Homo sapiens: one gene and its partners. The protein of the gene in region 1 purifies or fractionates together with the protein of each later gene. This does not show direct contact. Each region holds a gene or a part of one and is shown in the gene's direction. Other genes may lie near its edges. The genes, in order: PIANP, PRUNE1 and AKT3.

What was found.
Region 2: the proteins of PIANP (region 1) and PRUNE1 purify together in Homo sapiens (affinity purification with mass spectrometry; 2 studies listed by BioGRID and IntAct, with this or other methods). This does not show direct contact.
Region 3: the proteins of PIANP (region 1) and AKT3 purify together in Homo sapiens (affinity purification with mass spectrometry; 2 studies listed by BioGRID and IntAct, with this or other methods). This does not show direct contact.

What each region holds. Positions count from the first base shown.
Region 1 is NC_000012.12:6,695,554-6,697,972, reverse strand, and holds part of PIANP (PILR alpha-associated neural protein isoform b precursor), read left to right. Parts: intron 1-180; coding exon 181-686; intron 687-1,448; coding exon 1,449-1,530; intron 1,531-2,321; coding exon 2,322-2,419. UniProt on the Homo sapiens protein: Acts as a ligand for PILRA in neural tissues, where it may be involved in immune regulation.
Region 2 is NC_000001.11:151,011,427-151,015,083, forward strand, and holds part of PRUNE1 (exopolyphosphatase PRUNE1), read left to right. Parts: intron 1-3,657. UniProt on the Homo sapiens protein: Phosphodiesterase (PDE) that has higher activity toward cAMP than cGMP, as substrate. Plays a role in cell proliferation, migration and differentiation, and acts as a negative regulator of NME1. Plays a role in the regulation of neurogenesis.
Region 3 is NC_000001.11:243,546,165-243,549,821, reverse strand, and holds part of AKT3 (RAC-gamma serine/threonine-protein kinase), read left to right. Parts: intron 1-3,657. UniProt on the Homo sapiens protein: AKT3 is one of 3 closely related serine/threonine-protein kinases (AKT1, AKT2 and AKT3) called the AKT kinase, and which regulate many processes including metabolism, proliferation, cell survival, growth and angiogenesis.

The sequences.
Region 1 (2,419 bases):
ATCCAGAGCCTTCCCATCCTGAGGGCCATCCTCCTTTGGAAGATGGGAAATGAGGCGAGTCTTCCCAAGGCCCACCTGCTTTCACAGGGAAACCTGGAGGTTTCTGGTGTGAACCTGTCCCTCCCTCACATAGGCCCACAGTAGGCCTGTGTCTCAGCCACGCTCTCTCCCTTCTTGCAGGCCTGCGCTGCTGCTGTCCCACCTCCTCCCTCTCTGGCCACTGCTGTTGCTGCCCCTCCCACCGCCTGCTCAGGGCTCTTCATCCTCCCCTCGAACCCCACCAGCCCCAGCCCGCCCCCCGTGTGCCAGGGGAGGCCCCTCGGCCCCACGTCATGTGTGCGTGTGGGAGCGAGCACCTCCACCAAGCCGATCTCCTCGGGTCCCAAGATCACGTCGGCAAGTCCTGCCTGGCACTGCACCCCCAGCCACCCCATCAGGCTTTGAGGAGGGGCCGCCCTCATCCCAATACCCCTGGGCTATCGTGTGGGGTCCCACCGTGTCTCGAGAGGATGGAGGGGACCCCAACTCTGCCAATCCCGGATTTCTGGACTATGGTTTTGCAGCCCCTCATGGGCTCGCAACCCCACACCCCAACTCAGACTCCATGCGAGGTGATGGAGATGGGCTTATCCTTGGAGAGGCACCTGCCACCCTGCGGCCATTCCTGTTCGGGGGCCGTGGGGAAGGTGAGTGGGAAAGGCTGGGAGGGATATGACGGATGGGGAGGCTGGGTGAAGACACCAAGGGGCAGAAATAGAGGCCTTGTCTGTTAGCTCCTTCAACAAATGTGTCAGGCACTATACTGGCACAGGATGCAGAGATAAAGACACCCTCTCGGAGTTCAGGTCCACTGGAGCAGACAGACATGAAAGGACTTGGAGAGGAGTCATCGTAATAAATGCTTTAATAGAGGCATGTGCAGCATGATTTACAAAAAAAGAGAAGTGAGAGTCTCCTCCTGCTTGGGGATCAGGACACCTTCAGAGAACTGACATTTGAGCTGGCCCTTGAAAAGAGAGTGGGAGTATTCTGGGCAGAGAATGCCATGAATGAAGGGCACTACCCGGGAGATGTCTTGGCTCAGGGAGTGCTGATGGAGGAACAGGGCCTGTGGTTTGGGAGTTGGGCCATGGCAGAGACTAGGACATCTCCACCCCTTAGTTTCCAGGCATAGTGATAGGTTCTCGCTGATCATGGGGCCTCATCCTCATCACATATACACATAAGATTTGGTGAAATACATTTGGGAAAGTGGAGGAAAAGAGCTGAAAACTCAGGGGAATGCTGGTGATAATAAAGAGTGAGGCTCCAGAGGGGCAGACAGAGCCGGCAGTGTGGATCCACACAGCAATGCCACTCCAGCCGACAGAGCCCACAGCCCAGCCCCCAGCCCCTCTTGGCTCCTACCACCTCGGGGCTCCCTAAAACTTTCTTCCCACCCCAATCAGGTGTGGACCCCCAGCTCTATGTCACAATTACCATCTCCATCATCATTGTTCTCGTGGCCACTGGCATCATCTTCAAGTTCTGGTAAGCTGGGAGGAGGAAGGTGCTGGTGGATGGGGACGGAATGTTTGGCAGTCGAGGCTCTAACCACGAGGGGCAGTGGCAGCAATTTTGCTGGGGGGTGGGTGGGAAATGCTGGATGAAGGCAAGACCTTGGGAAAAGATAATTAAGGATTTGGCTGGGGGAAGACGGTGAGAAATCAGGGCAGATTCTGTCTCCCAGGGAAATACAAGGATAAGGGAGGGCAGGGGAATTATTCCTGTGCATTCCTGGTGAGCCTCCCCTGCCCCTACTTCCTCCAAGACAGAGAAAGCTGACCCAGTCTGCAGAGCCCTTCTTAGGGTTGCCTGGGGGGAGCAAGAAAACCTGGAGCTTTCTTTGCACACATTTAATAATGGATCACTCAGTCCTTCACACTTTACTGAGAGAATCATTAGACTCAGGTGTCCAAGTCATCAGCTTGCTTTGAACTAGAACTAAACCTGCCAGTTGTCTGCTGAAGACAGAAATGACTCTTCTGGGCATGTAGGGGAGAGGACATTGTGGTGGTGGGGAGGGGATATTAATTTTGTCGATCTGGATCAGGTTTGGAGGGTAAGGAGGTTTAGATTACCAAGCTCCCCTAGAGGGCAGGGGAAGTGGCTTTATGGGCACAGAGTCCCAGGGGATTTAGTAGAGAGAACTGTTAAAGGCCAGTTTCTCTGCTATAAGATGTTGGGAGTGACTGGGCGAGGCTGGGGGTGACCACTGGTGCAGGCCCAGGATGGGGGCTACTTGAGTGTGCAAGAGAACCTCTTTTCCTCTGGTACCCCAGCTGGGACCGCAGCCAGAAGCGACGCAGACCCTCAGGGCAGCAAGGTGCCCTGAGGCAGGAGGAGAGCCAGCAGCCACTGACAGACCTGTCCCCGGCTG
Region 2 (3,657 bases), on another chromosome or scaffold:
GTGTTCATCCAGGACCCCTTGGATAATGTAGTGTGTGCAGTTCTCAGGCATGAGGCAGGAATCAGGAGCTGGCTCTCCTTAGAAATTTGCAGTCCTGGCATCAGTATTGTTCCTGTTTTCTCTGCTGAGAGGGTTTGTCTCTCTCTGGCTTTCTGTCTCGTTTATTTTTCTCCCCCATTAACTATTCTGAAGAGTAGTTATCATACCATATTCAGCTTTAGAAGGGAAGTGGTTTACTTTGCCAGGCCTAGAATCCCCTCCCTGCCCCCTCCTCTTGAGGCCACAAAGAACATATCAGGATAAGAGAGTCATTTCAACTAGTGGGTGTTTATTCATTTATTTATTTTAATTAATTAATTTTTTTTTTTTTTGAGACAAAGTCTCGCTCTGTCACCAGGCTGGAGTACAGTTGCATGATCTCGGCTCACTGCAACCTCCGCCTGCCAGGTTCAAGTGATTTTCCTGCCTCAGCCTCCCGAGTAGCTGGGACTACAGGCATGTGCCACCATGCCCAGCTAATTTTTGTATTTTTAGTAGAAACGGGGTTTCACCATGTTGGCCAGGATGGTCTCAATCTCTTGACCTCGTGGTCGGCCCACCTCGGCCTCCCAAAGTGCTGGGATTACAGGCGTGAGCCACCGTGCCTGGCCAACTAGTGGGTCTTTAAAAAAAAGAAAAAAGAAAAAAAGTTTGTATTTATTTACTTGTGGCCCTCAGATTGTATTTTTTCCATTGGCAGCTTAGATTTCCTCATGCTGCTAAGTATAGCTGTATTTTCCCTGAACTCTTTCTCTGATGGTCAGAAAACTGAGGCTGTTTGGCTTGTGCTTTCAGCTGGTGGAGGATGGGCTTGGAATTAGGGGTTACACATGTTTTTCTTAAATAAAGAAGAGAATGATGTCTTATAAGTTGGGCAGCCCCACACACGGTTTGCCCAGGGCAGTCTTGGTTTTCCCCTGTGTAATCATTAATAGCACCCCTTTTCATTCTCATAAGCGTCCCAGTTTGAACAATCAAATATATAGTCACCCACCACATAAGCCATGTTAAGGATCAGGGATACATGACCATGAAAAGACAGGGAGCTCCTTAAGATAGAAGTTAAGGTCTGTCTCAGAGCCACAAGTGCTAGAAGCTGGAGGTTTAGAGGAAGAGGATTTCTCTGGGCTGGGTGTTCAGGAAGGCTTCACAGAGAAAGACATTAGGTAGACTTGAACAACGGGGAGAAGTAAAGAAAGAAGATGGGAGATCACATCTTTACTATTTACAGCGTAGGCACTTATGGTACTATCTCATTTAATCCTCCTAACAACATCATGAAATTGGTTACGATATTATTCTCATTTTTTTTGTTTGTTTTTTTGAGATGGAGTCTCACACTGTCACCCAGGCTGGAGTGCAATGGTGGGATCTCGGCTCACTGCAACCTCCGCCTCCCGGGTTCAAGCAATTCTCCCTGCCTCAGCCTCTGGAGTAGCTGAGATTACAGGCACCTGCCACCACACCCGGCTAATTTTTGTGCTTTTTAGTTTCACCATGCTTGCCAGGCTGGTCTCGAACCCCTGACCTGAGGTGATTCGCCCACCTTGGCCTCCCAAAGTGCTGGGATCATAGGTGTGAGCCACCGCGCTCGGCCTATTCTCATTTTTATATGAGGAAAATGAGGCTTAGAGGGTCCAAAGTCCTGCAACAAGTAAGAAGCAGAGCTGGAATTCAACCCCAAAGTCTGTGATCTTTTCAAATAGTAGTTCTGCATTCAAACAGAGAACAAATAGTGCAAAGGGCAGAGCTGGGAATGTGCACATCATGGTTTGCGGGTGGTGAATAGTCCAGTCAGGCCGGGGTGACAGTGGGTGTTGACAGGGGAGAGGAATGCTGCTGCCTCCCTTGGTCACTCCAGTTCCAAGATTTGCTACAAGTCCCAAAGTATTCCTTTTGTATTCATTCCTTTTGGTTACTGTCTAGGTTTGGCTGAGCGCAAGGGGTTCATTGTTCACCTTCCTCTGTAGATGGTTTCTCCTGACTTCAGAACCATACCACTGTATTTGGTCCCTACTTTGTGCTTTTCTGCTTAGCATTCTCTTCATGGTAAGGATCTAACTGAACCTGATTCAGCTGCTGCTTGCAGTGAAGCAACACTGATGTAAATAAGCGTGGAAAGGTTCTCCAGCATCTCTTTGGACCCTGCAGTAGGTCTCTCCTGCTTGCTCTGCCTTTTCTCCACTGCTCTTATGTTTTTCCTCCAGTCAGGGCCATATGCCTCATGTTTATATAGTTTCCTCTCTAGAGAACACTCGCTCCCCCTAACTGCTTCAGTGAGCAAGTTATTTCTGCAGCCTCTTATCTCAAGTGCTTTGCTGTCACTTTGGTCCACAGCCATTTGGGCAGTTCTTGGTCTCCAGGAAACAGAGGTCTCTGGTATCAGGAGGAGGAATTACAAGTCAGAGGAGTTACTATAGGACTGGGGTATTGGGTAGAATTCTTACTGCTTTGGAAAAAAGTAAAGAATCCCCCTACCCCAGTGCTGTTCAGTATGAATGGGCCTTTGCTTCCACACTTTTTTTTTTTTTTGAGACAGAGTCTCGCTCGGTCACCCAGGCTGGAGTGCAGTGGCACGATCTTGGCTCACTGCAACCTCCGCCTCCCGGGTGCAAAAGATTCTCCTGCCTCAGCCTCCCGAGTAGCTGGGACTACAGGCACCCGCCACCACGCCTGGCTAATTTTTTGTATTTTTAGTAGAGACGGGGTTTCACCAGGTTAGCCAGGATAGTCTCGATCTCCTGACCTTGTAATCTGTCCGCCTCGGCCTCCCAAAGTGCTGGGATTACAGGCGTAAGCCACCGCGCCCGGCCTGCTTCCAAACTCTTGAAGTAGACTTAGAGAAATAGGCATGGGGAGGACCTCAGGGCAAACTTCTTTAGGGGCCCTTTGGGCAGAACCCGGACAGATAACCTCTGTCTTCTGTATTTCTCTCCAGGGATGGGAGTAGGAGATGGCGACGAGGGTGGTTTAAAAACAAAAACCTATCTCGTAACTGGATGGGGCAATTGATACCACCAGAAGTCTTCTAAAATTGCCCTTTTTGAGCTGTGGCTTTCCAGTGGGGGAAGAGAAGAGTGATAGCCTGTATAGGGAAGATGATTCTAGGTTTCCCTAGATTCCCTTTTTTTCTTAAAGTTACATTAGTTGATAACTATTCTTTGCTATGTGTTACTCCTCTGAACCTTCCCACTTTGCTAAACTCTTGAGTCTAGCAAATCTTCCCTGATTGAAGAAGTCAGACTATATGGATTTTCACCTTCTTGTAACCCAGTAGTTCTCAACTGGGGGCAGTTTTGCCCCCCAGGGAACATTCAGCAAGTCTGGAGACATTTTTGTTTGTCACGACTTAGGGTGCTACTGGCATCCATGTGGGTAGAGGCTAGGGATCCTGCCAAATATCCTATAATGCACAGGACAGCCTCCACAAAAAAAGAATTATCCGGCTGGGCATGGTGGCTCATGCCTGTAATCCAAGCATTTTGGGAGGCCGAGGCAGCTGTATCACTTGAGCCCAGGAGTTCGAGATCAGCATGGGCAACATGGTAAAACCCCATCTCTACAAAAAATGCAAAAATTTGGCTGGGCGTGGTGGCTCACGCCTGTAATCCCAACACT
Region 3 (3,657 bases), on another chromosome or scaffold:
ATTTGTGTCATGAAAAGGTAACTCTGGCAGCTTTGTCATGGACAGATTAGATGAGTGAGGATCCAGGGGCAGGCAGAGCAGTTAAAAGTGTTTATGGGGCCAGGCACAGTGGCTCACACCTGTAATCCCCGCACTTTGGGAGGCCGAGGCAAGAAGGTCACTTGAGGTCGGGAGTTCAAGACCAACCTGGGCACATAGCAAGATTCATCTCTACTAAAAAAAAATAAAATGCTGGGTATGGTGGCACATGCTGTAGTCCCAGCTACTTGGGAGGCTGAGGTGGGAGAATCGCTGGAGCCCAGGAGGTCGAGACTGCAGTGACCCAAGGTGACACCATTGCACTCCAGCCTGGGCAATAGAGTGAGTCCCTGTCTTTTTTTTAAAAAGAATATTTATGGAATTGTTCAGATAATAGATGGATTCCTTCCTGAAGCAGTAGTACACAAGTGATAGAGGTTATGATTAACTAGAAACTATGAGGAAGTAGGAGGAGTTAGGAATCCCTCTGAGGTTTCCAGCTAGGGTGATTAACAGACAGGGTATGCAAACCAAGGAGGCTTGATGGGGCTAGATGTTGATAATAACTTTGGGTACACTGAGTCTGAAGTTTCTATATAAAACCAAGATGGAAATGTCAAGTGAGCAGCTGGAAATAATAGAATGAATGCTTAAAAGAAACACAGTAACTGACTACATGGATTGGGAACCATAACTATATCTAGGAGGTAGCTAGAGCCAAGGCAGTAGTGGCAAGGGTAGTGGATAAGGAGAAGAGGGCCTAGGACAGAATCTTAGGGAACCTCAGTTTCAGGGGGAGAAAGAAAAGAAAGCTAACAAGGACCTTGAAAAGCCTTTGGAAACATAAGTAATGATAGCATTATAATACACCTCTTCATTTTTTCTACGCAGCTATTTTAAATACTACTGGAATTTTTCTGGTATTTCTTATTGAATTGCTGTTAGTTCTATCCAAGGGTCAACTATCATTTTGCTTTTATTTCTTAGTCTCCATCCTTTCTGTTCATTCTGTTAGCCCCTCCTTTATCTTCCTATGCGGAGTTGATAGGAAAAGCATGACCTCATGTATTCAGTAACATTAGGAAAATGTGAATTCTGTGATGTTCCTAATAGTAAAGGAATTTGTAGTAGCTGAGGATTTAGTCTGGCATTCTGATACTGGAGTTTAGTATTCTAGACATAAATATCTTACTTCAAAGCATATTTTGTTATTATTTTTGAAGTCTTAAATTGTATATTAGAGAGTCATTGACACTGAAATTTTTGACAGTTTCACACATTGAAGAAGTGTGTTAAAGAATTTCTCCTAGCTTCTAAAATGGAAGTCTGATTGTATTCTCAGACTTTGCATAGTATTCATAGCTGATATTTTAGTTTTATATGTATTTGATAAATATAGAATAAATGCTGGCTATGTTCAAAACCAAAGTATTGCTAGAAAACTTGAGGAGTTACAAAAATGGATAACTAAAGCTGGATTAAAACATTTTATTTACAAAATGATTATGATTCTCCACTCCAACTCCCATCTCAAGTACAATTCAAATGAAAACAGTATTGAAATAAACTACAACATAAGTGTAAGAAAATGCCATGGAGCTTTGATGTTTCTCATGCAGACTATGTTGACGCATGCTTGAAAATATTAAATGCTTTTCAGAAACGTGTTTTGGTGCTTTTGCTTCTCTGGTTCCCCAAGCACAAGCTTAGAATGCCTTTTGGATAATCCAGCACTGATCTTGCCTTCAAAGGAGTTTGCAGTCTCCTGGGAAAGAAACCTACACAACTGAAATAGAATGAAAAAGAGGGCAGGGTCTGAAATGCTGAGCTCTCACTGAACACAGAACTACCAGTCTGAAAATTCCAAATGCAAACATCGAACAGCACTATTATGATCAAACCTAAAAGTGCCATCTCTGGGGTATAGTTCATTTAGAGAATTCTATAAGGATCTGGGAGTTGGAGACCCAGCTGGTGGGAATTATTTATCATCACTAAAGATATTCAGGTATCAGTTGACTGTTTTCCATTTTAATTGTGTGTCAAAGGATACTAGGTCCTTCCCAGTCATGTGTTTCTTAGATCTAATAACCAGAATTCATTAGAATTATATAATTATAAATGATTTCTGACCTACGATGGCTTGACAATTTTTTGACTTTATGATGGTGCGAAACTGATGCGTATTTAGTATGCTCCTCAACTAATGATGGAATTGCATCCAGATAAAACCATCTTAAGTTGAAATGTGGGCTTATCTAGACATAACCCATCATTAAGTTTAGGAGCATCTGTATTTGTTTTCTATGACGTATTTGGTTTTCTTCCAACCCAGTGGTGTTTTGGAGTTAGCATATACCAGCTCTCAAGAACCAACTGTTAAATTTTCACCAATTTTATGAGCTGGTTGTATATTATAGTCATTACTAAAAATTATATAAATTTACTAATAATAGGAAAATCAAAGGTCATAAATACTAAAAAGTCATTACTCCTTAATTTGTTATGTTTCACTGTTATCTGTATTTTTGAGATTAGTTATGTCTGCTGTATCTGTTTGGACATAATATATAATGGTTTGCTACTATGCATCTCTTCCTGCCTACATGTTCAGTGACATCTTATTGGTAGCTCGAAACTGGCCACAGTGGAAGAATTTATACCGCCAGAATTGGCAAATACTATGAGTTGGGGCTGCACTTACTGTTTTGTTGACTGTTTAGACTTAAGAGAAAATATTAATAATGCAGATTCATTACATTGTAAATAGCACCAAAAAATGAATCTTCTTCCACCATCCCAAAGTTACTAAACATTTAGCAAAGAAATCACTCACATAACTGACAAGTGAAGTTCTGAAGTCTCCATTGTATCACTTTCAGCTTTGACTTTAACATAAACAAAAATGTCAACCAATATTCATGTTGGAACTAATCGTAAGTTTCATCCATTAGTGGCTTTGGCGTACAGCAGAAATTAACAAGTTTTCTGTGAGAATCAGGTGACTAATTTACAATACACAACATTGTATGTTTTATGATCTTTGTAAATTTTGTGTTTTGCATTCTTTATATCAGTAAAATTTAAATTTATATGTCTGGGGTGTGGTGGTGGCTAGGTCAGGCAAGGTTTGGTCCCAGCAGCTCCATGGCTGCTCTGCTCTGAGCATCTGGTATCTACTGTGCCTTTGAAAAAAAAAAGAAAAAAAATTATATTTGTATAAATGCATGATTGCTCACAGAGAGCTGGTTGTTAAGCACTTACCAGCACATATCATTTCTAATAATGAACAAGTCCAAATAAAGCCTACTATATAAAATTCAGATTTAAATAGGTTTATTTTATCTTCCTTTCCTTGTTCTTTTCCCCTCTTTTCCTCCTGTTCTTCCTATTTCTCACTTTTAGTTCTTTTATGCTTAGTAATATATACTATATTAAACTGAATAAGCCAGAAAACACTGAAATTTCTTTACCTATTATTAGTCCATTTTCATTCTGCTATGAAGAAATACCTGAGACCGCATAATTTATAAAGAAAAAGGGGTTTATTGGACTTACAGTTCCACATGGCTGGGGAGGCCTCACAATCATGGCAGAAGGTGAAGGAGGAGCAGAGGCACATCTTACAGGGCAGCAGGC